2 linked regions of the Homo sapiens genome follow. The protein of the gene in region 1 purifies or fractionates together with the protein of each later gene. This does not show direct contact. Each region holds a gene or a part of one and is shown on either strand. Other genes may lie near its edges. The genes, in order: CFAP45 and GLS.

Region 1 (11,494 bases):
ACATCCACACCCGGCTAATTTTTGTATTTAGAAGAGATGGGGTTTCACCATGTTGGCCAGGCTGGTCTCAAACTCCTGACCTCAAGTGATCCCCCGGCCTCAGCCTCCCAAAGTGCTGGGATTACAGGCGTGAGCCCGGCCAGAATCACAGAATTTTTAGAAGCTTATTTCCCAAATCCTAGGAGGCACTTCACAGTCTGGCTGCAATCAATCTCGTTTCTCACCCCTACCTGCCATCTACTCTGTGCTTTTTCCCAGGCCCCCAACATGCCAGGCCTTGTGACAAGTTCTTAATTTTTTTTTGTTTTCTCTTTTTTGAATACCCTTTTCTTTCCTTTTCCTCCTGGAAAATGCTGTCTCCTTCCCTTTATATATAGCTTTGCTGTCACCTCCCTCATGTCACTAGGCAGGCTTAGTGGCTCCCTTCTCTGTGCCCATCACTCTGTGTTTATGCTCCAGCATCCCACTCTTGTGCTGTGGCTTTCTGACCCTCCTAGATGCTACGCTCATTGCGGACAGGTCCTTTCGTATCCAGTTCTGTAGCTTCTGAGCCTAGCAGAGTGTTTGGCCTGTAATAGGTGCTTAATTCATGTTGGGATGAATAAATTCAGTCTCCCCTTCATTTTGTGCAGAAAAGGACAAGTCCCAGAGCAAGTAAATTATAGAATAATAGTGTCCTAGATTTAGAACGCCAACCATACAATACATGAATTACCTTTATAAATAATCTTTGTACCACACTGAATGGCAGTTTTATCTCCCCAACTGTATCCTGTTCTCTGGAACCATTCATCTCTGTGTCTTGTGTACTATACCTGGTACATTCACCTCTGTACTTCTGGTAGGTACCTGGTATACTATAGTAGGTTCCCAGTGAAAGGTTACTGAGTGGCTAAGTGGCTGTCCATCTTCTGCATAAACAGCTCCAGCAAAGGAAAACTCTGTCTTGTTAGGCAACTGTAATGATTTGAGCTGGTCCTTGTATTGAGCCCAAACTTGTTTTCATGTAACCCTTTTACTCTTTACTCCTGTTTACTTCATCTGGAGTCATGAAGCCATTCGAGCACTCCATCTGAATGTGGCTCTCATACTCTTTCCCCTCAATTCTGATCCTAATATGTGTCTTCTCCCGTTCTTCCAGCCTTTACTCATATGTCATGGGGTCTATGCTTCCAAGTTTATTGACATCCCACTAACACATAGGGAATCACTGACAACATTGCTTGTACACCCTGGGTTTGTTTGTTTGTTTGTTTGTTTGGCTTTTTACTATTCAGCTAGCTTCCTATGATTACTCTGGGAAGAATTGGGAGGTGGTAGGATTTCAGAAACTCTTTATATACTGGAAGGTAGAAGGTGTTTTATCAAGTGGGGTACCCCTCTTGGACAAACAAATAAAGAAGGAGAATCTCAGGAAGAGTGAGCCCTGGAACCAGGAGCTCAGGAGAAAGGAGGCCAACCCTTGAGGTCCTTCCTGGGGGAGGGACTTTGGTCTGGGCTCATGAAGCATATTCATGTTTAGGGGGCACTTGTCAAATTGTTTCGGTGACACCACCCATCTTGGGGGTTGTTTAGGTGGAGGTTGGACTCTGGGAGATGTGGACCCGGGGTTTCTAAGACACTGTGGCACTGTTCTCTCCAAGAGGAAGGCGGCAAATTGTGGAACAGATGGAAAAGAACCAGGAGGAGCGATCGCTGCTTGCTGAGCAGCGGGAGCAGGAGAAGGAGCAGATGCTGGAATATATGGAACAGCTCCAAGAGGAAGATCTAAAGGTAACAGGCCAGACAGACAATGCCACGTTTCACCAGCTGCAGCATCAAAACCCTTCAAGACTCTGGGGTTTCAGGGTGTTGACTGATTTTCTGCCAGGCACATGCTCATTTCACAACATCATCACCGTCAACTTTTTATTGCCATGTTAAATATTTATTTCACCATGGTGTCACGCTGCGGGATGAGCAGTGATTTGGATAGATATTGTCCCTTCCTTCCAAGGACTTGAGGTCCAAGACTGACATATCACTGTGAATAGACACATAAAGGAAATATATGGCTGCATGCTTTGCACAAGTAAACATAGGGATGTTTTATAGTCTTCCTTCAATCACCTAGGGATATTATATACTTTGTAGATGAACAGTAGCAATATCTTAGTTCCAGACTCCCTGCTGTTACTTCACTCAAAGTACATAGCATCCCATTGCCATTAACTGTGTTGTGAAGCCAAACCTTTTCTTCCTGTTAGTCCAAATAAAATTAGTAAGCATATTTATTGCAAAAGAAATGACAACATACCTGCCCAAACTAAGAAGACTTAAAAAGTCATCTTCTGTATGCCTTCTCTGGGCTGTAACAATGTATAAAACCCTTTAGCACAGTGAGGGACATGGCAGGCACTTGGATAATTTATTTTTTTCCTCAATTTTTTATTTTGAAAAATTTTGCACACACAGAAAAGTTGAAAAAATTGTATCACACCCATCAACTCTTCACCTAGATTTAATGATTGTTAATCATTTACCTTAGTTGCTTGTTTCTTTCTAGGTGTGTGTGTATATATATATATATATATATATATATATATTTTATTGTTAAACTATTTGAAAGTAAGTTGCAGATATCTTGACACTCTGCCACTAAATGCTTCAGCCTGCAGCTCTGAAGAACATGGACACTCTCTTACATGTCAACAATACCATTATCACCTCCTCCATCAAAAACTTGAATTCAGTGATTCCATAATATCATCTAATAGTTAATCCACATTCACATTCCCCAATTGTTCCAAATATGTATTTCTGGCTCTCTTGTTTCCAAACTAGACGTTAATCAAGGTTTGCACATTGCATTCCGTTGAGTCTCTTTAGTTTGTTTTGATCTAGAAGAGTTCCCCCATTCATTCATTCATTCATTCATTCAGTTCTTCATTCATTTTTATAACACTGATATTTTGAAGCATCTAGGCCAGTTGCCTTTAAGAATATCTCACATTCTGAATTTGTATGATTGCCTCCTCATGGTGCCATTTAACTTGTGGAACACGTATTCTTTTACGATTCTCTCCCTCCCCTGTGTTTATGAATTGTCAAGTTGTCATCAGCTAGTGCATTTGATGGTGGTGAGTGACAGGGGGACGTGAAGAGTGCTGCAGGTGGGCAGACTTGTAATTATGAAGCCTTCTCATCACATCTGCAGTGTGAGGAGCTGCTAGAGAAGTGCAATGAAGATCACCTGGGTAGTTGGGAAACTGAAGGGGCACACAGCTCTGTGAACTGCATGAGAAGGAGAATAGCAGGGTGAAGGCAATGAGAGACCTGGCCAAGTTACTCCATTTCCTGGCTCAGGGGAGAGAGAGTGGGAAAGGGCCAAGAAGGAAAGTTATGGGGCAAATATGCAAGGTAGTGGGTGAGAAGTGAGGGCAGGAAAATCCAACTAGATGTGGGGAGTGGGAATTAGTGGGCTCACTGAGGAAGTTCTAGGAGTCCATGAGTCAGCACCATTATGTTGATGTTGTGTCATTATCCTTTTAATGTCCTTCTAACAGGCACTCCCTGAGTCTCCAGGAAGTATTATTGGGCAACTTTAGCAAGGAAACCTGTGCCTTCCCAGCTTTAGACCTACTGTATCATCTCATGGTGGTACGAAGGGCAGCGTTTCCCACCTTGCTAACAAAGGGGGAAAGAGTGAAGGGAATTTATCTGGGGTTGCTTTGGAAGGGCTTCAAAAGAAACAGGGAAAGTCCTTTGGTGTCTTGGAATTGAAATGAGCCAACAAAAACAACAATCCAAAAAGTAAATAAATAGGGAAAGAAGTAAATAAATACATGATTGTATGTATGTCATACATCAGAAATCAACAGCATCTTTAGCTTTGAGGGCCAGTGAGATTAAATGATGTCTGGGATACAAATAGCAGGCCTAAAATCAGTGAGAAGCAGTTAGGAAGGAAAGGAAGAAAGGGAGAAGGGGGAAAAGGAGCGAGAGAGTTGGAGGGGCAGAAAGGGAAAAGTGGAGTGAGCAAAGAAATGAGTATGGTGAGAGAGAGAGGGAATGTCTGTGACTCACGCACCACATGGACCTCAGAGGCAGAGAGTTGCCATACCGCTCTGGTTCAGAAGCCTTCCTGAAGGAAGAAGCCTTGAACTGGGCAGTGAGCCAAGCTGGCAGAGAGCCAGCACTACAGGAAGACACACAGGGAGAGTTACCTTGGTTAGATGAATCAGGGCAGCAGCTGGGCTGAGGAAGACCTGGAAGGCCAGGGAGGGATTTAGTCTTTGGAGAAATGGAGGGAGCTGGAAACAGTGTGGGAGGTGGGGTGAGTTAATCAATAGAAGAACTTAAGGAGTCTGAGATTGATTGGAGGTGATTGGGGGGCCAGCTGTTCCCCTAATTCCGATGCCCCTCTGCACCTGAGAATGTGCTTGGCTCAGAAGTGGTCTGATCATTGAGAGCTGTTGAAGGCTCAGGTCTGGGAAAGGCAGGGGGATCCTTCCTTAAAAACGACCTTGTTCACATTGGTACTCTGATCTCCGTCAAATGTTTCCCTGTGTCTAAGAACTTTTTTTCTTTCCTTTCTCACATGCCTCTCACTTTGGTCCTACCTTTCCTGCCTCATTTATCAATGGTTTATCGAATATTTGCTATTTTCCTTGCATTGGGCTACATGTTGTTGGGGAAGAGAGGATGTGTGACACAAGGTCCCTTGTCCTGTAACTGGGGCAGAGCGAACACATATGAAATGAGTGGGGACCTGCAAGGCAGTGTATGATCACCTTGCAAGAGGTGTGTCGCCACCTTAAGTGCAGAGAGAATTTAGAAATGGAGAGAGAATTGAAAGTTGAGGCAATCAAGCAAGATTTCCAGAGAAGGTTGATACTTTAATTTAGACAGAACAGGTTTCAAAATTTTAGCTCTGGAGATTATAAGCTGTGTGGCCGGTGGGGAAGTCACTTCAATGCTGGGCCTCAGTTTCTTTATTGGAGCAAGAGAGATAACAAGGCCTACCTACCTTTTAGGATTTTTGGACATATTTAGGTATTAGAGATAGTCTGTGTACAGTGCTCAAGAAATAGAAAGCACTCAATTAAGGCAATATGTATTATTTCAGTCGTCACTATTGACTGGAGAGTGAAAGTTAGGTTTAAATGGGAGAGGAACATTGAAGGCAGGAGAAGCACCATGAGCAAAGCCACAGGGGTAGGATTTAGCAAAACATGTGAGAGGCAATTGTATGGAACTTTAAGAGCTTCTGCTTCCTGAAAATATAGAGATCAATAGCATCAGGGGCTGCCACAAAGTCAAGTTGGATGAAGACTGTAAATAGGCCATTTGGTTGAAGAGGGTATTTATGACCCTTGAAAAAACAGCTTTAACAAAGGATAGTTGTGGACACTAGACTGCAGGCAATGCATTTGCCCCCTCCTCTGTCTGCATCTCTCTATCCCTGGATGCCAGTGGCTTCTTGTCTTACCTCTTTGTACTCTGAGGCTCTCTTTCTTTTGCTGGCAGGACATGGAACGAAGGCAGCAACAAAAACTGAAGATGCAAGCTGAGATTAAGCGCATCAATGATGAAAACCAGAAACAGAAAGCAGAACTGCTGGCTCAGGAGAAGCTGGCAGACCAGATGGTGATGGAGTTTACCAAGAAGAAGATGGTAGGGACTTGGTTTCTGGGACCTTTGGTTAGGAATGGAATGTCTGTCACAGGGAGAGGAGGGCCTGAGAACTAAGGGAACTCCAGTGGAAGGCAGCCGCACCTTCATTCTAAGATGCACATCCTTAGTTCAAGGGCCTGGCTTCTTTGTCTCTTCATCTTAGCCAGTCCACTTGTTCGTTAACAGAGACAGCCTAGAAAGGACAACCAAATTAGCTTTAACCTCATTAACACCTTTGATTAGAAGTTGGGATGAGGGCCATATGCAGGCAGAAAAGAAAACTGAAACTATTGGTGAAAGTGAGTTTTTTTGTGGATTTGTCATGACTTGCGTAATTATACCCCCGGTAATCATGAGTCAGCGGTTACATAAATTTCTTGTGCAAATGCCTATATTGGACATCCTGTATTGGGTGCTAGACTCAGAAAATAGTCTTCCCCCATCTCCCACCAAAGAACCTATATGACAGAGCAAATGCACAGTGGAGGAGAGAGCCATACCTGCAGACAGTTGCAGATGGATGTAGCTCATGAATGTGTCAGCTCATTCTGGGGCAAAATTGAGTAATAAAATGATTGGGATCTACGGGGATTGGAGAGTAGAAGAAGGCTTTTAAGAGTGGTATAGATAAAGTGAACATGGATTTATGTAAAAAGAGGAGGAAGTACTCAAGGTGGCAGGAAAGTTATTAAATTCTTCATGTGTTGATCTTGTCTGCCCTGCTAGTTTTGAAATTCCATGATGACAGAAACACATTGTACTTCTCTATGCTCCTCTATAGTAGTGATTTTTAAAGAAGGCCAGGGGGAGGGTGTGAGTATAATTTGAATGGCATATTTGGTACACCTATATGTTCTGAATACAAACCACAGAAAATGAAGCTCAGCGAAGCTCACTTATTGGCTTTAGTATTCTTATTGGATGCTGGGGACACTCTATGCAAGCAATAGAGTGAGAATGCAGGTTTGGGGACATAGATGATTCCTACATAATAACAATCACATAACTATCATTTAGTGAGCACCTAGTCTGTGCATAGGCTCCGTGCTAAGTGTTTTACACGTGTTATCTCTTTTAATCTTTACAATAATCCTGTGAAATGGTCACTGATGATTCAAAATATACTGGATGCTTCAATATGTGTCCAGTCAGACTAGGCTGAAAATACCTAGGATAATGCTGTACCATTGGAACTCAACCACTATTTTCCCAAGTGAATGAAGGTGGGGATGATGAGCTAATTCTGTGTAGGAGTTAGTGCACATATTTTCTGGCTGCAGCAGAGGGTTGGTAGTGGATATAATAAGAAATGAGGGTGGTGAGATGACAGAGAGCTAAGAGCAGTTGTTGGGGTGTCTTGGACATTGAGTGGAGCTGGAAGAGTGGAATGATAAGGAGTCGCCATGAATTTCTAAGCAAGAGAGGAGTATATCTTGTCTTTATCATGGAAAGGACATTGTCAAGGTGTAGCTGGGAGAGGCTGGAGACTGGCCACGGAATCAGGCACTTGGGCATGTCCACAGTCCACCGTAAGTATCTACGTATATCACAAGCCCTTACCGACCTCACGGTGGTATCTATTCTTGCAGCCAGGGCTGCCCCTGCAGAGCTAAAAGCAGAAATTGGTTGTAGAAACACCCAGAGTTCCCTGTCCTGTTATCTAGGGCAGGGTGGACAAAGGAAGCAGCTTGACAACAGCCCCGTACAACTTACAGGGACAACTCACTGGGCTTCACAGAAGTCTGGGCAGGTAGAATGAGGGCAAGGAAGGTTTTTTTTTTTTTTTTTTTTTTTTTTTTTAGATGTAGTCTTGCTCTGTCACTAGGCTGGAGTGCAGTGGTGCGATCTCAGCTCACTGCAGCAACCTCTGCCTTCCGGGTTCAAGAGATTCTCCTGCCTCAGCCTCCCGAGTAGCTGGGACTACAGGCATGCGCCACCATGCTCAGCTAATTTTTGTATTTTTAGTATAGACACTGTTTCACCATGTTGGCCTGGATTGGTTTGATCTCTTTACGTCATGATCTGCCTGCCTCAGCCTCCCAAAGTGCTGGGATTACAGGCATGAGCCACCATGCCTGGCCGGGAAGATTCTTTATAAATGTCACATTTGCCTCCAACCTGCACCATTCATCTTACGATTGCTCAAGAATGGCGTTGGGAAGCGGGCTTGGGAAGCTTTTAAGGATATACCTGTTTTTTCAGAGAGGTGGAAAGGGAGCTAATTTTGGTGGTTCATTCTTTAAGTATCTGGTAACCACTGTGGGACTGCCCAAAGCATGGTTGGCTCTTTGCCCAGGGACTAATGAGATAACCTCCACCTGCTGTACTTTACAAGACAGGCACAGGACCAGTTGTTTCTTGGCCCAGTAGCCTTGCAACTTGAAAATTGTCTATGACATAGTGGAAGGAGTGTGAAAGCCAGGGTCAGGGTACCTGTGTTCAAATCCTGTTAGGTAGTTTACTTCCTGTGCAATCTTGGGCAAGACCCTTGATCTTTCTGACCATCCGTTTCCTCATCTATAATATCTGTCTCAGGAAATGTTGTGAGGGCTCTCCAGGATAACACATAGGAAAGTGTTTTGTAAACAATAAAGCATTTTATAAATGCTAATTGTTTTATATTCATGCATTGCTAAATTCATTTTACCTTATTTATTTATTTATTTATTTATTTATTTTGAGACAAGGTCTTACTCTGTTGCCCAGGGGAATGCAGTAATGCAATCATGATTCACTGCATCCTCGACTTCCCAGGTTCAAGCAGTCCTCCTATCTCAGCTTCCCGAGTAGCTGGGACTATAGGCACATGCCACCATGCCTGGCTAATTTTTAGATTTCTAGTAGAGACAGAGTCTTTCTCTGTGGCCTAGGCTGGTCATGAACTCCTGGGCTCAAGTGGTCCTCCTGCCTCAACCTCCCAAAGTGCTAGGATTATAGGCATGAGCCACGGCACCTGGCCTTATTTTGTCCTATTTTAAAAGGAGTCAGGAAGTGGTAGGGGAGATATTGGAAAGTCTGTTGTAGGGGTTTTGTTTCTCTCTGCAAGGCTGGGGCAATGGCAACTATTCTACAAGGCCTTTCCTTCCGGCAGGCTCGAGAAGCAGAGTTTGAGGCTGAGCAGGAGAGAATCCGGAGGGAGAAAGAGAAGGAGATCGCACGCTTGAGGGCCATGCAGGAGAAGGCCCAGGATTACCAGGCAGAACAGGTACCTGCTTAGTCTCGACTTCCCTCTACTTTTCCCACTCCCTTGCCTATCCATCCCTTTGACAGCCTGTAGAATGGCCTTGAGGGTGGAGATGCGGAGGAAAGGATGCAAGTTACCTAGACTTCAGTAGTCTGAGAAGGAAGGGGTGGCCTGCTCCCAGGGCCTGTGTCAGCAGGGATTGGGCAGTGCAGCCTGTGCTTAAGGTTCAAGAGAAAGTTTTTCGCTGCTCCATAAAGAAGAACTTTCAACCTTAACCAACCAATGAAATGTGTCACCAGGGGAACCTGTGGTATCTCCATCATTAGCAGTTTTTAAAATTAGAAGCAATTTCAAGACTGCCTGGAGATGTCTGAGGTACAGGGAAAGAACTGGGATGAGTGGGTTGGAAGGACAAGATGACCCCTCAGGTTATCTTCTAACCCAAAGGTTTGATGACAGGATTCCATTTATCTTTTCCTAGAATAACTAGCTGCCAGAGAAATTCATGATGCTTTTCAAAGCAGACTGTCAGAGTCTGTAAGTAGGTATCTTCTTAAAGCCACTTGGTCTGTACTTCCAGCTATTTTGTGCCCTCACTGGTCCCCTGCCAACATTCCCAGGATGCCTTGCGGGCCAAGCGCAACCAGGAGGTTGCAGACAGAGAGTGGCGCAGAAAGGAAAAGGAAAATGCGCGGAAGAAGATGGAAACAGAGGCTGAGCTGCGAAAAAGTCGGCTCGAACAGGTGGCTTTCAAGGAGCACGCTCTGGCTGTTCAGGTGCAACGGGACCGGGATGAGTTCGAGAGGATTCTTCGGTAGGAGGGGCCTGGGAACCTTGGATTCCTTTCCTTGTACTGTAGCAGGGATGGTCCATATTGGATAGAGAGAAGCTTTCTGGCATGTTAACAGATGCTCGTCGATCTTGTCTGGGTTGGTGGGATCATTATAACTAGATGGATGATTGAAACTTTTAAAAATCACTTGAGCCAAGAATTATGTGATTAGAGAATTGGGAGATAGCACCTGGAATTGCTTAAGGAATTGGTGATGACTGGGATTATTTACCCTGGAACAGTAAAAGTATAAATAAAGGTAAAATTCTGGTCCATTCTGCTGCCCTCTGACCCATGTGCCCCTGCAAATTGGGGATGAAACTGCAAGAGGAGTGGTTTAGGAAAGATAGAGAAAAGAACTTCAGACACTAAGGGTTGTGAGTCACTGGAGCAGGACTTTAAGGGAGCTGTTTGCCGTTCATTTGACAAATATATATTAAGCACAGAAATGCAGGGCTCTGTGCTGGATGCCATGGAGGACATTAGCAATTAACAAAACACTGCTCTTGCCCATTCCACAGGAAAGGTATTAGAGATTTGTGTTTGGATGGACTGCACCTACATCAATCCATCTTTCTTCCTTGGTAGCTATTTATCCTTTTACTTTTGTTTTCCCTTTTGGCTCAATGATAATTTCAACACATAAGTGGAAGCTAAATGTTCACATCTCTCACTGTTCTGCTCCCTCCCCAAAAGCAGTCAACAGTCACAGCTCCCATTGGTTTCCCTCTCTGCTCTGTTTTCCACCAGTCAGACCTGGTCCCTGGGGCTGTTCTCCTGGTCTAACTGGGAATGACTCTCTTTTTGCTCTGGTTCAGACTCTACAACATTAGAATTTTTCAAAAGGAAACAAGCCAAGCAAAATTCGAATTGAAGGGATACAAAATTATAGACATTATGCTCAGATAAGTAGAGATTAAACAGTATAGCATCACTTTCTTGGTTCATATGCTCTAAGTCCTTCCTCTTGGCAATGGGTAGTTAGTGGCATGCCAGACCAGGCTACCCAGACCCCTAGTTAGAGGCAGAGCAGGTCTTCGGGAGCCTCTATCCTTACGAGAGCCAGATTTTTGGCCTTTTATTGGACTGCAGGCCCCAGCATGTCCCCCCTGCCATGATACCCTTTGGCTCTGTAATTTTCTCTGCCCCCAGGGTTGTGCCATGGTCACTGGACACCTAGTGAAGAAAGTAGCTTCCTAAATGCCCCCCAAGATTCTGCCCTTGGGCTACAGACTGCCTTCCAGATGTCTCCTCTCTCCTCCCTGGCCTCTATGCCCTTGGACATCTGTGTTGCTGTTAACAGGCACTAATAAATATTAATGAAATGAAATTTAAGTCCTACTTTTGCTGCCGACCCATTTATCTTTCCTTTGCATCATTTGCCTGAAGCATATGCACTAGCCAGTTATTAAAGCTAGACCAGCCTTTTTGGAGAAGTTCAACTTCACCTATTGTTGTAGGTTAGTATCTAGGCCTAGTGTCTCCAGGGCCATGTGACCACCATGTTTGGTGTCTTTACTCAGAAGCATCTCTGCCACAGCCCAAATCCAACTTTCTCTGCCTCAAAAGCACAGCCTCCTCTATGGCCTATATGTGGACTTTTGTTTCTGGACAGAGGGATGTCCATACTTCTCAGCCTGTTGACTAAGCAGAGATAGCTGTCTTCCTCTACCAAGTGGTTTTTAGAAATGTCTTGGAGCTTTTGAAAAATACGATGACCAGGCTTCACTTCCTAGATTGTGATTTAAATGGTCTGGGATTAGGCCCATGCATGAGTCTGTTTCAAAAGCTCCCAGGTGATTCTAAAATGTAGCTAGGCTCTG
Region 2 (11,494 bases), on another chromosome or scaffold:
CTTGCAGGAGCTGGGCAAGGGGAGCACGCATCCGCAGCCCGGGGTGTCGCCACCCGCTGCCCCGGCGGCGCCCGGCCCCAAGGACGGCCCCGGGGAGACGGACGCGTTTGGCAACAGCGAGGGCAAAGAGCTGGTGGCCTCAGGTGAAAAGTGAGTGTCTCCGCGAGGCGCAGGAGGCCTCGTTCCTTTCGGGGCCCGGGCTCAGGCTGTGTGGGGCCCTGCGGTGGGGCGGGATAGGAGCCGAGGGTCTAGAAAAGAGAAAGAAAGAGGTGCCGGGCGGCCTGCGCCGTCTGCGCCATGTGATTAGGCCCGGCCCCGCCCGCGCCTTCCCCGCCCGCAACCCTCCGCCAGGCACCCACTTCCCTTCTCCGCCCCCGGCGGGGGTCGCCCTGGTGGGGCCGCGGTGGGGCCTGATGGGCTCGCCTGGCGTCCCCAGCGCCAGAGAGGCCGCTCCCCTGCCCGCGCTGCGTGCTCAGCTCCCTGGCTTGCGGCTGCAGCGCCTGGCCGCCCGCCCCAGCCATTCGTGGGCGATGCTGCACGAACATCTCCACCGAGTGACATTTAGGAGTTGGGCGTTCAGCAGAGCCTTTACCTTCCTGACTTGTCGCTTTTCCTGGCTCGTTTCCGCTCTGCCTGCCCTCCCTTGGTTTCTGCCATCATCCGGTTGGAAGCCAGATGTGACAGAGAGCTCTTTATATTTCGGGAGTGGCTACCTCAGGCACGTGTAGAGCCATCTGGGGCACCGGAAACAATGTTTCAGAAGTGAGATTAGGAGGAATCCGGTCATGTGGCCGAGAAGATGGGGCACGCAGTATAGACCACCTGTTTGCATAAGGGACCAGCTTTGGCTTGTCAGGTCTTCCGTGAGATGGGGAGATTTTTAGAAATAAAAGTTAAATAGCCAAGATGAAATGTGACGTAATACACTAACTCAGTGAAAAATCTGAGTTGAGTAGGTTTTGTGACTTCATTGTGATAGGATGTTGACTCATCCTGTATGTGTACGGCACAGTAGTTTAGTCTTAAAGCAAAACTGGTTTTTCTTAAACAATATGCAAAGCAGTCTCCTATATATTTTTGTCTTGTGTAATACAAATGGACCACTTTGTTTTCCCAAAATGGGTAAAAATTTACGGATCTGCTTTCATTATACCTTACTCTTTTTCTGGCTTTGTACGCTGACACTCTAACCTGTTTTGCTTCCCTTTTATTTCTGCTGCTATTTCCAGCTCTAGAGTTCCTTAAGTCAAACTGAAAGTGAGAACATTGTTATAATTTCAATCTCACGCCTGCTTGATGTTTTCCTGTAATTGAAGTTGGGACCTTCCAGAAACTTTTCTAAAGTTCTTCTCCCAGACTGAAAAAGATTATTTGAAAAAAATCACTTGATGATGGGCGAAATTTGTGGTATTTTGTGATGTTGGTTTTGTGCCACAAAATAGCGTCCTGACCATGGACAGGTTATTTAATATCTTGGGTTAGATGACTTAAATCCTTTCAAGTTCTAAAAAGCTATACTTCTGTTAAATTTGTACTTCTCTCATGTTTTAGGGACTAGAATGATAATTTAATCTCATCTGGGACTCACTTTTACTTTAACATCATCCGGTTTACCAAGGAAGTAACGAGTTTACATGCAAGTGCCCAAGGTACAGAATTGCAAAATGCAGTCACAACCGTTTAAAAGTTCATCTTAAAGGCTACAAGATGGGAACTGCATTCTAGTAAAATTATGTCTTCAGGTCTGTGTCTCTGCAGTGGCTCTAGTGCCTCTCTTTTTTTTCCTCTTTTGTCAAACAGGAAATTGAGCTTCTTCTGTGATTCACTTGTCCAGAAGTTTCTGGTTTCATTGCCTTTTTAATAAAAAATCACCTTTTAGCAAGGGCCTCAAGGTTGTGAAGAAAGTTTTTTAATTTGGTTAAAGTTTCTATTTCCTTAATGATCTGGTTTCCAAATGTAGCTTTCCCTCTTTGGCTCCTTTCATTTTGCCTTTATGTGACAAACATTTCTCTTATCCTGGGAGGTAAGCTCCCAGTTGATCCTGTTATCCTTTCTAATGCTTAGCCTGCAAAGCATAGGTCATCCCTCAGTCAGCAGTCCACCTGGTATGCTAGCACTCACTCAGGACTGTGCCAGATTTTATGTAGTATTATTAAAAGAAATAACCATGAGAAAATTAAATTAACATTTTGTAAAAGGCTTAGAACAATATTTGGCGTGTGTTAAATGACACATAACTATTTATTAAATAAATGAGAAAACATTGCTTCTTCATTATTGTAAAGCCTGTTAAAGAGATTGGCCTTGGAATTTCAGGCTTGCACATGAAGGTTTTTAATTTTTTTAGTTTCCACAAAAATGTTTATCTTGAGAAATTGCTATACATCTGTCTTATATGAAACTATGTGAGTTGCACTGTTTACCTTTTGCTCTGCTGATAAATAAGTTCAGAGTAAATTTAATGCTTAACCACACCAATTTCATCAGTTCACATGGCTGGGATATCTGCGTTTCCTCCTTTCCTTGGTCCTGAGTTTATATTTTATTTACTTTATATTCTGGAAGGAGGCGTGATATAAGCAAGTTACTTTACCTTTTTTTCACAAACTCTTTGAACTAATGTCACTTTAGACTATGCTGTTTCCATCACGCAACTTTAGTGTGGTTTAGGATACGAACGTCTTAATATCACATAGAAAAATTTAATGATCTTTGCTCAGTTTTGTCTTTAGTGATCTTATTTAATTTTGTTATGGTTCATTCTGTTATCTTGAAAACCAACTTTGCTTGCCTCTCTTCGTTTTCAAAATTGTTCTCTCTTCTTTCCTAGTTCTTTTTGAATTTCCTCACTGGGTAAAAACCCTGAGGCTGAGGCCTTTGTCCCTTTCCCACTTGTCTGCCTTCTCAACAGCGTATCCCTTCTTTCAGCTTTGACTCTCATCTTTGTGTAGGTAATACTTCACCTCTTAATCCAAAGCTCTGTTCTTAAATTTGTCGCCACATATTCAATGACTTCAAATTTTAAGTCTGTACCCTGATATTCATTCTTTTCTCCAATTCAACCTATTTTGCGTACTGTTATGAGAGTAATTTTAGAGTTTTAATTTGAAAATAGCACTCTCTTCCAGAAAACCAGCAGGATCTGGAATGAGCATTATATTAAAGTCACAAACTATGTTATGGTTTATGCCAGCACTTGCCCATATGGACATTTTTATCATACTTTTCTCTGTTAAGCTGGTTATACTTATTTCCATAAAGTCCAGAAGTATGTATCCTATCTTAGTGAATGGTCCCTAGGAAGAGTCAGAGGGATAGAGGTAAGGGGCATTATTAAGTTTTTTTATTTGGACATTTATTTTTTAATGAGAAAGGAAAAGAGATACATAACAGAAATTGGGCTGGAAAAATACCAGCATATGTATGTTGTTAGAAAATAGATAATTCATACAGGATGCAATATTGAAAGTATTCTGTTAAAACAACAATGAGGTCACTTTCCCCTTCTCAGATTGGCAGATGTTAAATCAAGTAATTGGGAAAATAGGAACTCTAGCATTGCTAGTAGAAGTATAAATTATTAGTTCAGTTACTTTAGGCAGTTTGGTAGTTTCTGTTAAAAACTGCATAGCTGTGATGTGGTAGTTGGATGTTTGCATATCTACATGAAGTCGTGGCATTCAGAAATATTTGTAATTACACAAATAAGCATGCTTTAAAATATATTTATATTTAAAAGTAAAAATGCAAGCAAAAATGATTTCAGCTAGCTTTAGTTAGTATGGATTTATGTTTTGATAGTTCAGCTTTATGTTTTGATAGTTATGGACAATGAAGGGCAAAGAAAATCATCGAGGTGTATACTCTGAAAATTGAATTTTTTTTTTTTGAGATGGAGTCTCGCTCTGTCACACAGGCTGGAGTGCAGTGGTGTGATCTCGGTTCACTGCAACCTCTGCCTCCCGGGTTCAAGCCATTCTCCTGCCTCAGCCTCCCGAGTAGCTGGGATTACAGGCACCCGCCACCATGCGTGGCTAATTTTTGTTTTTAGTAGAGATGGGGTTTCACCATGTTGGCTGGGCTGGTCTTGAACTCCTGACCTCAGATGATCTGCCCGCTGTGGCCACCCAAAGTGCTGGGATTACAGGCGTGAGCCACCGCACCTGGTCTGAACATTGAATTTCAAAGTAAGATGAAATGCTTATGAATTTCAGCGAACATTGAATTGGGTAGATTGAACAATACTAGTAAGGAAGTTGAGTTAGTATTTGGCAGATATAAATATTAAGTTTTAGAACTGAATGACAAAACCTCTGTTAAAATGGGGGCACATGTTTTTATGATCCTTCAGTATTGCATTTGGTTTTAATTTTAAAAGCTAACATATTTACAATTCACTTAAGCTAAAATCAAGGTGGAAAGTATGTTTAATTTTTTCCTTTGGGCTTCTCAGGCAGCCCCTTAGTTATTTTTGATTTCTTCATTATTAAAAATTTTTTTCTAGGTGATGATTATCAGTGAGTTTTAGTTTTTTTTTTTAAATTTTATTTTTATTTATTTATTTATTTTTGAGGTGGAGTCTCACTCTGTCACCCAGGTTGGAGTGCAGTGGTGTGATCTCAGCTCAATGCAACCTCTGCCTCCTGGGTTCAAGTCGTTCTCCTGCCTCAGCCCCCCATGTAGCTGGGACTTACAGGCACGTGCCACCACACCTGGCTAATTTTTGTATTTTTAGTAAGATGGGAATTTACCATGTCAGCCAGGATGGTCTCGACCTCCTGACCTTGTGATACGCCTGCTTCGGCCTCCCAAATTGCTGGGATTACAGGCGTGAGCCACTGCACCCAGCCCAGTTTTGTTTTTTTAAAAGCAAGTGAAAAAGGTACCAATAACTATATGTCATAACATTTTTGTGACCTAATATTTATATTGAAATGTGCATCAGTCATTGATAACTTTGTCCATGATCTGTAATTAACAAACTCATGCTGTTAATTTATAGTTTTATTAATATTTGGATGAAATTCACTGAAAGAACAAGAATTAGATTCTGAGGGGTTTAGTCTCCTGGACTTTTAGCTGCATATTTCCAGACCTTACTCTTTTATAGAGAAGTCTACCTACCTCAAAGTCAGCTAATCCATGAAATGACTACCAAATAGAATTCAGCCTTTTTTATGAGGCAATATGTAGGCCAGCTAAAAGGGAGGGGGGGCACTATTTTAGTCCAAAGATAAATGTCACTTTGAAAGAAATTTGCTGAAGATATTTGTGGGTTTCTTTGAGTTTTAAAAAGTTATTTAAAAGAAATCAGGCTGGGCGTGGTGGCTCATGCCCGTAATCCCAGCACTTTGGGAGGCCAAAGCAGGTGGATCAGTTGAGGTCAGGAGCTTGAGACCAGCCTGGCCAACATGGTGAAACACTGTCTCTACTAAAAATACAAAAATTAGCCAGGAGTGGTGGCGGGCACCTGTAATCCCAGCTACTCGGGAGGCTGAGGCAGGAGAATCGCTTGAACCCAGGAGGTGGAGGTTGCAGTGAGCCGAGATCATGCCGCTGCACTCCAGCCTGGGTGACAGAGCGAGACTCTTGTCTCAAAAAAAAAAAAAAAAAGAAAGTAATAGTAAAAGGCTGTACTACTTCCTTCTTGTGATATTTGAAATGAAGAAAAATTATGACCATATAAGCTGAAAGCCTAATTATAGAATTTGTGTGAGGGAGCTCAATCATGTTAAATCCTATATAAATTAAGGTTATATTTTATAGTTGCCTGTCTGTGCCTTTTCACCTTTAAGTCATTTGCTAGTAAGAGAAATGCTTAAGAAAGGTGAGTAAACAGATGTATTTATAAAAATAGTTATTAATTACTGATATCTCTCAGTGAGGTACATAGCTTTCACATAGAGATACTGTTAGTACAGTTTTACCCTGAAATCTACTCAGGTGCAAAATTGCTTTGGTTATGAAACACATTACTTGTGAGTCATCACTGCACTTAGTGATTTTCTGACCCCCTACAACGTAGTAGAAGCAAAATGTTAATGTACCTTGACTTCCATTTGGGAGTGTCCTCTGCTTGATATGTTAAATTCATTATAAAGAAATGTTTATAGTAAAAGCATTACTTTCGAAACATAGAACTGTAGATGTTGCATAATGAATAAAACTGATAGCTTTCAGGATTAAGAAATATATTTTTGCCTATTTATTTCTGGTACAGGCTTCTAAAAAAGATTTTTAAAATTGTCTTCTTGATGAGGATATTTTGAGTGACATAGACCCGTCCTTCAATTCTTGATGGTAAACTTTCTGAAGAGCAATTTTTAAGCTCTATGAGGAACTTACAAAGTATTCATACCTTTTTAGGAATCTAAGTTCACAAAATAAACTGAAGTGTTAGAAAGATTTATTTCCTATTATTTTTGGTACAGTGTTATGCATACTAGAGAAAAATGGAGAAAAACGCATGTTCAACATTAGTGGGATAGTTAAGTAAATTGTGGTACATTCATATGAGGGTCTCTTATTTAGTCATTTAAAATGTTTGCAGGTACTTTTTAGGATATAAGGTAATGTTATAACGGCCAAAAGTTAGAATACAGAATTTTCTATGCAGTATGATCTCAAGCTATTTAAAAAGCTCAGAAAAAGTAATAGAAGGAAATAAGCCAAAATGACATTAGCAGTTGTGGTTTATGAGAACGAGCATTGTTTTTCCTGCCTCCTTTTGTTACTTTTAAGATTTCCCCCCCATTATAAGTGGGAAACGTCTAAAACAGTAAAAAACATTCCATAGTTTTGAAAATCAAAGGAACCACATCTGTTAAGTTTTGAACTTGTAAATCTCTACTGTCTACTCTTCTAATATCCTGATTCTGGTTGTATAAGAACAGTAAGCACCATTACATTGAAAGAAAAGTATGAAAATAGGTTATGTATGAATTTGCACAGCTCCTGTTTATCAGCATTGTCTAATCATATTCACTGGTACCCTTAAACATCAAACTTTAAAAATTTAAAACTATGCTTGATATATCTCCCTAGTAAATGTTACATATTTCTCTGCCATATTAAAACATTGTAATCAATAGAGTTTAACATTTCTTGTTCAACTTATGTGTATTTTAAGGATGCATTATTATACTGCACTGTAATACAGTGATGCTGTAAGACAAGTGCTGGCACACTTTCCCTGAAAGGCCAAATAGTAAATATTTTCAGCTTTTGGGGTTCTCTAGTCACTACTACAACTTCTCAGTTCAGTGGTGGTAGCAAAATAGCTGCAAACAATAGGTAAATAGATGTGGCAGTCTTCCAATAAAACTTTATTTACAAAAAGAGGAGGTCCCTGCTGTAGTTTGCGTAGCCCTACACTAAAATATATTTATTGGTAAGTTCTCTCATGCCTTGATTGGTTCTGCTTTAACCAGTACTCTTAAGGGTGGGTTTGTTCTTTTGTGGATTTTTGTATCTTGTATCAGTTGACTGTTCTTCATGTCTCTACTTTAGCTATCCTCCTTCACTCTTACCTTCTGTATCCAGTTCTGCTTAGCTTTTTCAAAAAATTGTGGTTAAATATACATAACATAAAAATTACCACTTTAACCATTTTTAAGTTCCCTAGTTCAGTGGCATTAAATACTTCTGTTAGTTTTAGAACCCAGATGAATATGCTAATGTGTAAAATAAAAGTATGTAAGTTGTGAGTGAATAAAGTTTATGATCTCACTTTAGTGTAGTGATTTGGAGGACATCTATTTTTAGCAACTCAAAAACTGAGAATTAAGCTTGGAAGTAACTTTAAAGAACATTTAATTCCAGCTCATTTTACGTATTATATAAGCTGCCCGCAGATATTAAATGACCTAAACAAGTTCAGACAGTATTAGGACTTGTTTTGATTTTTTATTTTTCATCTATTAGCAGCAAACTAATTCAATTTATAGAGTTAATTTTTTTAGATTGAGGATTATAAGAGATCTTACAAACCCTTCTCCCCAGCTGCTGCTTTCTTCTCTTCTGTTACATACTCCCTATAGGTTGTTGTTATTCATCTCTACCTGAATACTGCCTTCACAAGGGAGTTCACTCCCTTAGAAGGCAGCCCATTCCGTTTTCATAGCTGTTTCATTTTTCCTTATGTGTGGCTGAAGTTTTTCATTAACTTCTACCTATATATGTTAGTTATTCTGAACAAGTTGTCTATAGTGGTATCAGAGTGATTGCAGTGACAGAATTCATATAGTATCTGTATTATTCCATCTAGACTGATATATTAAAGGATACTTGGCTGAAGAAATGAGTTATTGGAAAAACTAACAGAGTTGGATGTTATAGACTTGATCTCCCCAGATCCTAGTCTTCCCACCCGAGACAGCCAGACTGCCTTTTGGGTCAAACTTCTGAAGTTGTGCAAACGTATGGACAAATTACCATGAGCTGACAGGGGCAGCCTGACCATTTCCTCACATAAAGTGGCTTTTGTGCTTTTTACTTTGGTGTGCTATTAAATGAATTTGTGCTATAAAGTCCAGTCAAAACAGCAGCACTAATTGAATATAATCTCATCTTTGCTTTGACAGGATGCAGTTTTATCAAGGCAGACCAGTTTAGTTCTCTTATGTGCATTTTGGTTAGAAATTTATTATTGTTTAAGAATTACAGATATTATTCCTAAAATAGAGTGCTAACCACTGAGAGCATGAGGTGGCAGAGCAGGAAGAGTCTGGAACTGGGAACAAAGGATGAGCTTTGTAGGACTAATTCTGGTCCAGCCACTTAAGATTTATGTGACATTGGACATTCTGCTTGACTTGGATACTCTTAAAACAAAATTTTTTTTAAATTTAAAATTTAAATTAACATTTTCTTTCTTTTTTTAGAAATGGAATCTTGCTGTGTCACCCAGGCTGGAGTACATTGGTGCCATTATAGCTCACTGCAGCCTTGAACTCCTGGGCTCAAGCAGTCCTCTTGCCTCAGTCTCCCAAGTAGCTGGGACTGTAGGTGCATGCCACCACACTCTTCTAGGACTCTCTTTTATCTGTACACTGGGGACAATTAACCCACCTTAATTTACCTCATAGGGTTTTAATATGATAGAAAGTGAGAGTCCTTTTTTAGCAGTAAAGCCTTAAAAGATGTAAGTTTTTATTTTTAAATTCAACCAATGATTAGCCTTGGGGCAAAATCACTTGGATGATAACTAGAATTTGTCAATTTGTTAGACTTAACATTCATTCTCATATGCTATTTTACTATATGGTCAGCCACCATCAATTCAACTTTCTATCTAACAGGTTTATTAATCTGCCAGTTTGCTGGTGTTGATAGACGGTTGTTATCAGTCAGCTCACTATAAATTCAAAATGATACACTGATTTTAAAACAACCCTGAATTATCATCTGAAGGATCATTATTCTTAAATGAAGGCATAAAGACTAGCAAATCCTTTTGTATTGTGTTATTATTAGGCCTCATTTTTTTTAATCCCACTTGAAAAGACAGTTTTTCATTGTCTCATAGGTTTACCATACTATACTATGTGTTTTAAGAGTTATGCGAAAAAAAAAATAAGAAAGACTTGACCCCAGCCTTGAAGCTTTATAGTTTGGGGAGGTTAGGTAATATGAAATGTTATTTAACAAAATAAGACCATACAGTTGGTTTCAATTATTTTCCTCTGTTCATTTTGTAGTTCTTAGTAAGGATTTTTTTTTTATTTTCTTCCTTTCATTTGATAGTTTTTTATTTATAAGATTTTTGAACTGATGAAGATGAGTTTGCCTTGTTGCTCCTAATTACAGATTAGAAACTTTCTTGATTTCCCCTACCGATTAAGGCAAAATTAAATACTTCATCTGTACTTGCTAATAAAATACTTTTTGAAAAACACTTCTACCATAGTATTTGTCTCATGGCTTTAGTCATATTTCTCCTAGACCACAACCTTACTTTAGGGATCTTTATTGCTATTGCTTGGCATATAATAAGTGGTACAAGAAAAGGACAAAACTTAGTGATACCAGAGAATGCTAAAGAGTATAGAGAATCTGGTGGGGGCAAAGTCCTGTGAAACAATTGAAATGATCATTGATAGCTTAAGATTTAGGGAGAGGAAGGTTTTACACAGAAGGCATGATAGGTTAAAAAAAAAAAAGATGAGATAGCACTTATTTACAGGTCATTGAGTCTAGTCAATTACATTGGGGAATTATAAGGATTAAGTTAGGAATAAATAGTGTAAAACTAATTTATAGAGAACTGCATACCAGACTGAGGAGTATGAATTCCCCCTTTGGTATGGGGAAACTAATTTGGTCAGTGGGGTAAGCAAAGACAGTTCCTCTTTTCATGTTGCAGAAGTTGGCCCTGCATTTAAACTTAATGTAGATTTTGGAAGGTAGTCTCCTCATTTACCTCAGATATATATATTCAGAATATATATATTCTCAACACTAAAAAATTAAGTATTCATATAATAGCCTATAGGTAGAAACAGGCACCTTAATTCACACATTCTGTGCTCTAGCTGTTTTTTGTTCTTTATAAACACTAAGTGAATGCTTACTTTCATCCCTTTGGTCTGTTTGCCAGAAATCTTTTTCTGTTGCCATGCTTCCAGCTCTTACCCATCTTTCAGGTTTAGCTCAGATTCCACCTCATCTAAAAAAAAGCTTGACCTTATTAGACCACAGTGAAGTAGTTTTCCAAAGTCTGGATGTCATAGATCTATTCTTGTAATTCCTCATTTTATGTACATGTCTCCTACTTCTTCTAGACTGTAAATGATGTCTAACATGATGTCATACATGGCATGGGATTTTTCTTCTTTTTCATTAAGAAATTATTTTTTAAGACAGTTAAAGGCTAAAGTAGGGGAAGGAATGGGTAAAAGAAGAAACAATATGATGGTAAGATGATCTTAAAGGCAGCATTTAGAAAGGAAACGAGAGAGACAGTATAAGTTGGAGAAGAAGTAAAAAGGTGAGAAATAAGGATTTTCCTTCAGATTATCTTCTGTTATATCCTATTTGAATTGCTGAATATCATAACCATTTTATGTTTTTCTCTTCAGGGGAATCTGGAGGATTCATTTGGGTTATTAATAATTGTTGATGATAAGATTTGAAAGATTGCTATAATCCTATTTGTCATTAAAACTTAAATACTTCTCTCAAGGATTTCCTAGTTACTATATAGTTACCAAAAGCTATAGTTTTTAGCTTTTGAATTTTAATGAAAAATACATTATTGTGAAGAATTACCAGAAAGAATTAATTTAGGGAGAGAAAAGGGGGGTTAAGGCATGAATGATCTTGAGTAGTTTCTGCCTTGTGGAAAGTTTGAGGAGAATATTTGAGTATGTTTGTTCGCCAGACTGTTGAAGCGAATTCATTCTCAGATCAAAATCTGAGGTTTCAAATGCTGAAATAGGTAGTAATTTCTTTTTATCAGTTTTGACAGCTTATTTTGTGAGCTTATTTTTTAGGG

Evidence for each region.
Region 2: the proteins of CFAP45 (region 1) and GLS purify together in Homo sapiens (affinity purification with mass spectrometry; 2 studies listed by BioGRID and IntAct, with this or other methods). This does not show direct contact.

What each region holds. Positions count from the first base shown.
Region 1 is NC_000001.11:159,874,715-159,886,208, reverse strand, and holds part of CFAP45 (cilia- and flagella-associated protein 45), read left to right. Parts: intron 1-1,643; coding exon 1,644-1,773; intron 1,774-5,508; coding exon 5,509-5,655; intron 5,656-8,746; coding exon 8,747-8,860; intron 8,861-9,459; coding exon 9,460-9,653; intron 9,654-11,494. UniProt on the Homo sapiens protein: Microtubule inner protein (MIP) part of the dynein-decorated doublet microtubules (DMTs) in cilia axoneme, which is required for motile cilia beating.
Region 2 is NC_000002.12:190,881,321-190,892,814, forward strand, and holds part of GLS (glutaminase kidney isoform, mitochondrial isoform 1 precursor), read left to right. Parts: coding exon 1-150; exon of another isoform or gene 151-248; intron 249-592; exon of another isoform or gene 593-668; intron 669-11,494. UniProt on the Homo sapiens protein: Catalyzes the first reaction in the primary pathway for the renal catabolism of glutamine. Plays a role in maintaining acid-base homeostasis. Regulates the levels of the neurotransmitter glutamate, the main excitatory neurotransmitter in the brain.